Linked DNA regions of Homo sapiens: region 1 is linked to region 2. A link means that fine-mapping ties the variant in region 2 to the expression of a gene that starts in the linked region. Tissue or cell type: lung. Region 2 holds a variant in brackets; the other region holds the start of a gene. All regions are shown on one strand. Distances are between the middles of the regions.

Region 1 (4,217 bases), 200 kb after region 2:
TTCCTTTAGAAAAAATGGATGCCCAGAGGACTCCCAACCCTGGCTTGGGGTCAAGAAACAGCCAGCAAGAGTTAGGGGCCTTAGGGCACTGGGCTGTTGTTCCATTGAAGCCGACTCTGGCCCTGGCCCTTACTTGCTTCTCTAGCTCTCTAGGCCTCTCCAGTTTGCACCTGTCCCCACCCTCCACTCAGCTGTCCTGCAGCAAACACTCCACCCTCCACCTTCCATTTTCCCCCACTACTGCAGCACCTCCAGGCCTGTTGCTATAGAGCCTACCTGTATGTCAATAAACAACAGCTGAAGCACCTGTTTCCTCTCTTTTCTGCTGGGGAGGGGGAGGTGGTTGAACCCTGCCCTCTGAGCAGGCTGGGAATGGCTGCAGCCTCGTGCCCCGCAGTGGGAGCTATGGTGGTGTCACCTGCCATCCTGCCCACCTCCTGGTGCAGAGGCGCTGGGAAAGCAGTAGCTTACTATCTTAGGGTTACAGGTTGCCCCCTTCAGTGCTGCGGGGAGACTTTAATGGCTTACGTGAACCGAAGATGGGAAAGAGCAGGGACAAGGCCTCCCTCCCACTCTGGTAGATAAACCCAAATTGCAAAGTGGCCTTGGCCATGGTTCTTCCACTTTGGTCTTCCTGCATTAGCGTATCCCTTATGGGGGCTGTAGGAGGAGTCAGCTCTGGGCGCCTGAGACTGGGTTTGGCTCCCAGGTCCTCAGTTGTGGACCTAGGCTCCCCTTGGGACCCCTCCTGTTTGCTGGTGCCCTCCCACCATGATGCTGTAGTGCCAAAGGGCTGGGGGAGAGAGTTGGGAATGGGACCAAATCTGGCCTGCGCTTTTCCTCTCCCCTGACCACACTCCCAAGGACCAAGTGTCCTGGTGGGGATGGAAGAGGAAAGGGCCTGCAGGCCAGGCAAAAGCTCATTGTCACACTGAGCGCACGTGCCTCTGCTTCCCTGCCTTTGATTTGTGTCCACCTTCAGCCCCTTTGCAGACTCCTCCAAAAGTGTATTTCCTTGGAGAAACTGCAATGTTAACTCCGGCAAAAGTGCGTGGGAGCATCCTGGCTCCCGGGTTCGTGGTGGTGACTTGGCTGTCAGACCATGGTGTTCAATATCCCCTTTGGTGTTCCCCACTGACGGTAAAATTGAAACTTATCCGGAGCTCTATGTTGGGAAGGGTTAGGTTGGAGAGGGGCCGGAATTGGTTCCTGCAGAGGGACCCAAGCCGCAAGACTAGGACGACAGAAGCGTCCAGAGGGGACACAATACCCTCGACGTGAGGGACAGGAGGTGCCGCGCCAGGCCCTGGCCTCCGGGACCTCCCAGTCCGGGGAACCGAGCGCTAGGATCTGCTCAGAGCTTGGAGCCCCACCTGGGGAAGGTGGGGAAGGAGAGAAGCTGGGGAAGCTGGGGAATGAGGGGGAGGAACGGCCAATGGGCTGTGCCCGGCCCGCGCGACCCGCCAATGGGCGGGCGGGCGGGGCGGGCTCTCGACGGGGCGGGCGGGGTCCGGCGGGCGCTGGGTCCCGGCGCGCGGTCGGGGCGCTGGGTGCAGGCGCCGGGATGACCGCTTTAAGCCGGAGCGAGGCCACCGAGGAGGGCGGGTAAGGGGTTGCGGCCCGGGGGCCGGTCTCGGGGGTTCCGGAGGCCGCCGCGAGGGGCTGCTGCCGCGCGGGGCAGGACGGCTCCTGGGGCCGCGGCAACTCGGCGCGTTCTGCCCACGGGGCAGGCACTTCCCGGCCGCCGGAATGCGGGCTCCGGGCCAGAGCTGCACCGCGCGCCCAGGCGTCTCCCGGGGCCCGCGAGGTGTTCGCACTAGGACCGGGTGTCTTGGCTGAGTCTGCTGCGACCTGGGGGATGAGGGACGGTCCCGGCAGCATCGGGGCAAGGAAGGGCACCCTCCTCGGGACGCCCCGCATGGCCCATCTCCGCCTCGCCACTCTGTTCATCCTTTCATTTATTCATTCATCATTCGTTGCCCGCGGTATCGACTCCCAGTCCTAATTGCCCCCGACCCAAAGGTTGGATTTCCCTGCGTCCCCTGGAGGGCCAGACTGTTTCCTCTCGCCGCCGAATCCGTATTGTAGCGGCCCGCGGCTGCGGGGAGGCAGCTCGGAGCTGTCTCAGCACGACGCGGCCTCCCCCGGGCGCCAGGCCCATCCCGGTCGGGCGGGCTGGGGCCGGTCTCCCGGCCTCGAGACCTGGTCCAAAGTCGCCCTGGGAGAAAGGGATAAGGAGGCAGGGCAGACAGGAGCTGGCGCTGCACGTAACATCCAGAATTGTGGTTTCTGCTGCTTGAGGTCTTAGGGTCCTGGGAGTGACATTGTTTGGGGGAACCTGTCAATTCCTGCCCCGGTCCAGGTTCCAAGCCGCACAGCCTAAGGTCGGGTACAGCCTGGCATCCTCGGCCAGCTAGCACTGGGGCAGGTAGGATGAATGTGTGAGCCTTGTGTCCAAATCAGCCCGAGACACACAGGGATGTGGACCCCAGCGGGACTCCCTCTGCCTTATACTCAGAGGGACTGGTGGGGCTCCACCCCGCTGTCGTCTGTGTCTCTGCTCTGCTTGCCGCCCCACTCACTATGCTTGATTGTTTAAAGGTGCCCCTCCTTGCAGGGGCCAGGCTCCTAGGGAACGAGAGAGGGTACCCTCGCAACCTGATGTCTTCACCCCATGTCCACCTGTAGCCGGCTCTAAAGTCTGGCTCCTTTCAGAGCAAAGACTTATGGCCTTGCTGGGAGAGGTAGAATAGAGGGTGTCTATCCCATTCTTCAGTGAGGAGTCAGTATGCCCCTCCTTCTTTTTTCTTTTTTTTTTTTCTGAGACAGTTTCACTCTGTCACCCAGGCTGGAGTGCCGTGGTGGGATCTTGGCTCACTGCAACCTCTGCCTCCCAGGTTCAAGTGATCCTCCTGCCTCAGCCTCCCGAGTAGCTGGGATTACAGGTGCCCACCACCACGCCCAGCTAATTTTTGTATTTTTAGTAGAGATGGGGTTTCACCATGTTGGCCAGGCTGGTCTTGAACTCCTGACCTCAGGTGATCCACCCACCTCAGCCTCCCAAAGTGCTAGCATTACAGGGACTACAGGTGTGAGCCACGTGCCTGGCCCCCTCCATAGTCTTCTGATCAGGCTGGCTGGAGACCATGCTGCAGACACTCTTAGGTTTAAGTTTTAGTTTGACAGGCATTGAGGTAGCCTCAGTGGGCACCTCTGGGACAAATGGGCAGGTCCAGAGGGGAAAGCTGACAGAGGCCCCATCGAGCTTCCAGGAGAGTTTAGGCTGGGGCCAAATAGAAGTTCTCCTTCCCAACTTCCCCTTGGGAGAATTTTCTGAATAGCCTGAAGAGGGTAGCTCAAGCTCCATCTGTGCCTTGATGTTGCTGGCTGCTTTCAAATTTCTTTCTTTTTTTTTGAGACGGAGTTTTGCTCTTGTTACCCAGGCTGGAGTGCAATGGCGTGATCTCGGCTCACTGCAGTCTCCGCCTCCTGGGTTCAAGTGATTCTCCTGCCTCAGCCTCCCGAGTAGGTGGGATTACAGGCATGCGCCACCACACCCGGCTAATTTTGTATTTTTTAGTAGAGACGGGGTTTCTCCATGTTGGTCAGGCTGGTCTCCAACTCTCGACCTCAGGTGAGCTGCTCACCTCAGCCTCTCAAAGTGCTGGGATTACAGGTGTGAGCCACTGCACCTGGCCTCAAATTTCTAAATTTAGCAAGGCCCCAAAGCTTTGGCACAGACCAGAGAGACTTGTATGCTAATTCATCCACCTAGGGTGCTCCCGTGACCCCCTGAGGTTGAGGTCGGCAGTACCCAAGGTGGGTTGCTGCCAGCTGGCCTCTTGGAAGCTCTCCCATGAGCTGCTGCGCTGTTAGTGCCTCCTGGGTGGCTCCACCCCGCCCCTAACCTGCTTAGGTTCGCTCTGGTCCTTGCCTGCCACGGACCATGTTTATCAGCTGGAGGGAAGAGCCTCACTCTGGAATCAGAAGTGAGTTCTAAGCCTCAGGCTGTTCCTGTTTTGCTGCGACTTGGGACAAGTCACTTCCGCTTTCTGGGCCTGCTTTACACCATAAGGTAAGGAGATTGGACTGTAGGTTCCCTAAAGGCCTTCTGCATGCAGTCATCCAGTGATTCTCCTAACTAGACACTTCTAGCAGCTTCAGGGGAAGTTTGTCTACACTCATGCTACAGTATTTTCAGCAAATGTGATTGGACA
Region 2 (4,217 bases):
ACTTTGGGAGGATCACTTGAGGCCAGGACTTTGAGACCAGCCTGGGAAATATAATGAGAACTTGTCTCTACAAAAGAAAAAAAAATTTAAAAAAATTAAAAATTAGCCAGGAGTGTTGGCACACATCTGTAGTTCCACCTACTCAGGAGGTTGAACAGGAAGATTGCTTGAGTCCTGGAGGTGGAGGCTGCAGTGAGCAATGATAGTGCTTTTGCACTTCGGCTAGGCGTTAGAGCAAGAGCCTGTCTCGAAAAACCAACCAACAAACAAAAACAGTTCTTCCCATAAAGAGAGTATAACCCATTATTTAGGACAGGAAACAACCTGGAATAGGAGAGAGAAAGGGCACACTGAGGATACCAAAGAAAGATCCATCCTGCACTTGGAGAGGTGAAGGCCAAAAGATCTTGGAGGAAGAAACATGAAGGGCCAATTTGTGTGAGCAGAAAGCTCTGCAATTGTGTGGGGCCTGTGGCATTTAATTCGGTGGCACTCACAGGGTGGCTTGGGTGTGTGGCTCCAGCACAGCTCATGGTTGCATAAGGTCCAGAGTCCTGCGTAGAGCTCAAGGCCATTCTTGATCACCAGAAACTGTACCCAGTTCAGTGGGGACATGGCGATCAGCATTAGGAGGCTAAAACTACAGAGGCTGCCACAGAGCGTTCGGATGTAGATGTGTGCCTGATCCATAAGCTGCTGCTGCCTTTGGCATGACATCGAGGCACTTGGATGTTTCTTGGCAGGGACGGTAGGCTACAAGGATGAGGGAAATATTGCCTACCCGAAAGAATAACCCCTGATCCCCAGGGTCACCCGCTCTTCTCTACCTCAAGCATTCCCATGTGTGTTTGATTTATAGATATTTTTCCCTACTCCTAAAAAAAAAAAACCCCACAATTTTCAGGGTGATCTTTTCTGTCTTTAGGATGCTCTGTGTAGCCCTGCCTTTAAGTAAGTTCTCTTCTTCCCATCTGACTTTCAATTAGATACCTCCTCACCCTTTGGTATTTCCGGTTCCCCTTTATTTTGGGAACCTCAGGACTGTGGAAAGTCAAGGTTAAATGTTCCCTTCGCTCCATCTTGGCAGTTAGTTCTCTAACTGCCACGGAATTTGTCTCTGCATCTCCTCACACATGCTGGCAGAAGCAAAAAGGGCCAGGACCCATGGCATAGATCCTGTTTCTGTTTTATATTTTTGATCTGGTCAGATCAGGAAGAAATCACCACATTTTAAGCATGTGCATGTATGTGTGATGCTCCCCACCCTCCATTCTCCACCTACTCCCAACTCTTTTATTAAATAAATCCACAAACATTTTGTTAGCAGTGGCTGTGTGTCAGGCTTTGTGCTAGCTTCTGGGACACAAAAATAAATAAGACACAGTTCCCTCATAGCAAATAAAAAAAGGGGAACTCATATGCTTGTTGGCCACATGTGTTTCTTCTTTTGAAAAGTGTTCATGCCCTTTGCCCACTTTTTAATGGGGTTATTTGTCTTTTTCTTGTAAATTTATTTGAGTTCCTTACAGATGCTGGATATTAGACCTTTGTCAGATGCATAGTTTGCAAAAAAATTTTCCCTTTCTGTAGGTTTTCTGTGTACGCTATTGATAGTTTCTTTTGCTATGCAGAAGCTCTTTAGTTTAATTAGATCCCATTTGTCAATTTTTGCTTTTGTTGCAATTGCTTTTTGCATCTTCATCATGAAATCTTTGCTGGTTTCTATGTTCAGATCATTAGAGAAATTAATCTTTGTATTTTTTTTTTAATTTTTTTATTTTTTTATTGATCATTCTTGGGTGTTTCTCGCAGAGGGGGATTTGGCAGGGTCATAGGACAATAGTGGAGGGAAGGTCAGCAGATAAACAAGTGAACAAAGGTCTCTGGTTTTCCTAGGCAGAGTGTTTGTGTCCCTGGGTACTTGAGATTAGGGAGTGGTGATGACTCTTAACGAACATGCTGCCTTCAAGCGTCTGTTTAACAAAGCACATCTTGCACCGCCCTTAATCCATTTAACCCTGAGTGGACACAGCACATGTTTCAGAGAGCACAGG[GT/T]TGGGGGTAAGGTCATAGATCAACAGGATCCCAAGGCAGAAGAATTTTTCTTAGTACAGAACAAAATGAAAAGTCTCCCATGTCTACTTCTTTCTACACAGACACAGCAACCATCCGATTTCTCATTCTTTTTCTCACCTTTCCCCCTTTTCTATTCCACAAAACCGCCATTGTCATCATGGCCCGTTCTCAATGAGCTGTTGGGTACACCTCCCAGACGGGGTGGTGGCCGGGCAGAGGGGCTCCTCACTTCCCAGTAGGGGCGGCCAGGCAGAGGCGCCCCTCACCTCCCGGACGGGGCGGCTGGCCGGGCGGGGGGCTGACCCCCCACCTCCCTCCCGGACGGGGCGGCTGGCCGGACAGAGGGGCTCCTCACTTCCCAGTAGGGGCGGCCGGGCAGAGGCGCCCCTCACCTCCCGGACGGGGCGGCTGGCCGGGCAGGGGGCTGACCCCCCACCTCCCTCCCGGACGGGGCTGCTGGCCGGGCAGAAGGGCTCCTCACTTCCCAGTAGGGGCGGCCGGGCAGAGGTGCCCCTCACCTCCCGGACGGGGCGGCTGGCCGGGTGGGGGGCTGACCCCCCACCTCCCTCCCGGACGGGGCGGCTGGCCTGGCGGGGGCTGACCCCCACCTCCCTCCCGGACAGGGTGGCTGCTGGGCGGAGACGCTCCTCACTTCCCAGACGGGGTGGCAGCAGGGCGGAGGGGCTCCTCACTTCTCAGACGGGGCGGTTGCCAGGCGGGGGGTCTCCTCACTTCTCAGACAGGGCAGCTGGGCAGAGACGCTCCTCACCTCCCAGACAGGGTCGCGGCCAGGCCGAGGCGCTCCTCACATCCCAGACGGGGCAGCAGGGCAGAGGCGCTCCCCACATCTCAGACGATGGGCGGCCGGGCAGAGACGCTCCTCACTTCCTAGATGGGATAGCGGCCGGGAAGAGGCGCTCCTCACTTCCTAGGTGTGATGGCGGCCGGGCAGAGACACTCCTCACTTTCCAGACTGGGCAGCCAGGCAGAGGGGCTCCTCACATCCCGGACGATGGGCGGCCAGGCAGAGACGCTCCTCACTTCCCAGACGGGGTGGCGGCCGGGCAGAGGCTGCAATCTCGGCACTTTGGGAGGCCAAGGCAGGCGGCTGGGAGGTGGAGGTTGTAGCGAGCCGAGATCACGCCACTGCACTCCAGCCTGGGCACCATTGAGCACTGAGTTAACGAGACTCCGTCTGCAATCCCGGCACCTCGGGAGGCCGAGGCTGGCGGATCACTCGCGGTCAGGAGCTGGAGACCAGCCCGGCCATCACAGCGAAACCCCGTCTCCACCAAAAAAATACGAAAACCAGTCAGGCGTGGCGGCGCGCGCCTGCAATTGCAGGCACTCGGCAGGCTGAGGCAGGAGAATCAGGCAGGGAGGTTGCAGTGAGCCGAGATGGCAGCAGCACAGTCCAGCTTCGGCTCGGCATGAGAGGGAGACTGTGGAAAGAGAGGGAGAGGGAGACCGTGGAAAGAGGGGAGAGGGAGAGGGAGACCGTGGAAAGAGGGGAGAGGGAGAGGGAGAGGGAGACCGTGGAAAGAGAGGGAGAGGGAGAGGGAGACCGTGGAAAGAGGGGCAGATCATTAGAGAAATTAAAACCACAATGAGATACCATCTCACACCAGTCAGAATGGCTACTATAAAAAGTCAAAAAAATAACAGACTGTGGCGAGGTTGTGGAGAAAAAGGAACACATACACTGTTGATGGGAGTGTAAATTATTAATTCAAACATTGTGGAAAGCAGTGTGATGATTCCTCAAAGACATGAAGACAGAAAGAACTACCATTTGACCCAGCAATCCCATTTTTGGGTATATGCCCAAAGGGATAGAAATCATTCTATCATAGAGACACATGCACATGTATGTTCACTGAAGCACTATTCACAATAGCAAAGACATGGAATCAACATAAATTCCCACCAATCGTAGACTGGATAAAGAAAATGTGGCACATATCCACCATGGAATACTATGCAGCTATAAAAAGAACAAGATCATGTGCTTTGCAGGAAGATGGGTGGAGCTGGAGGCCATTATCCTTAGCAAACTAATGCAGGAACAGAAAACCAAATACTGCATGTTCCTACTTATCAGTGGGAACATGGACACATAGAGGGGAACAACAGACACTGGG

What was found. PIP is the estimated chance that this variant, and not a neighbour inherited with it, causes the effect.
Region 1: GRAMD2A starts here. The variant in region 2 is the best candidate, but not a certain one, in a credible set for the expression of GRAMD2A in lung (TOPMed, PIP 0.66).

What each region holds. Positions count from the first base shown.
Region 1 is chr15:72,195,119-72,199,335 of GRCh38, reverse strand. GRAMD2A (GRAM domain containing 2A) reads left to right here and starts at 1,549. Exons shown (of 12, transcript NM_001012642.3): 1 at 1,549-1,605. The coding sequence starts at 1,565. PKM (pyruvate kinase M1/2) reads left to right here. Exons shown (of 11, transcript NM_002654.6): 11 at 1-307. RefSeq lists a silencer at 1,402-1,821 and an enhancer at 1,932-2,111.
Region 2 is chr15:72,395,189-72,399,405 of GRCh38, reverse strand. TMEM202 (transmembrane protein 202) reads right to left here and starts at 1,101. Exons shown (of 5, transcript NM_001080462.3): 1 at 999-1,101; 2 at 498-753. The coding sequence starts at 1,079. The variant GT/T (reference allele first, on the strand shown) is at 2,055.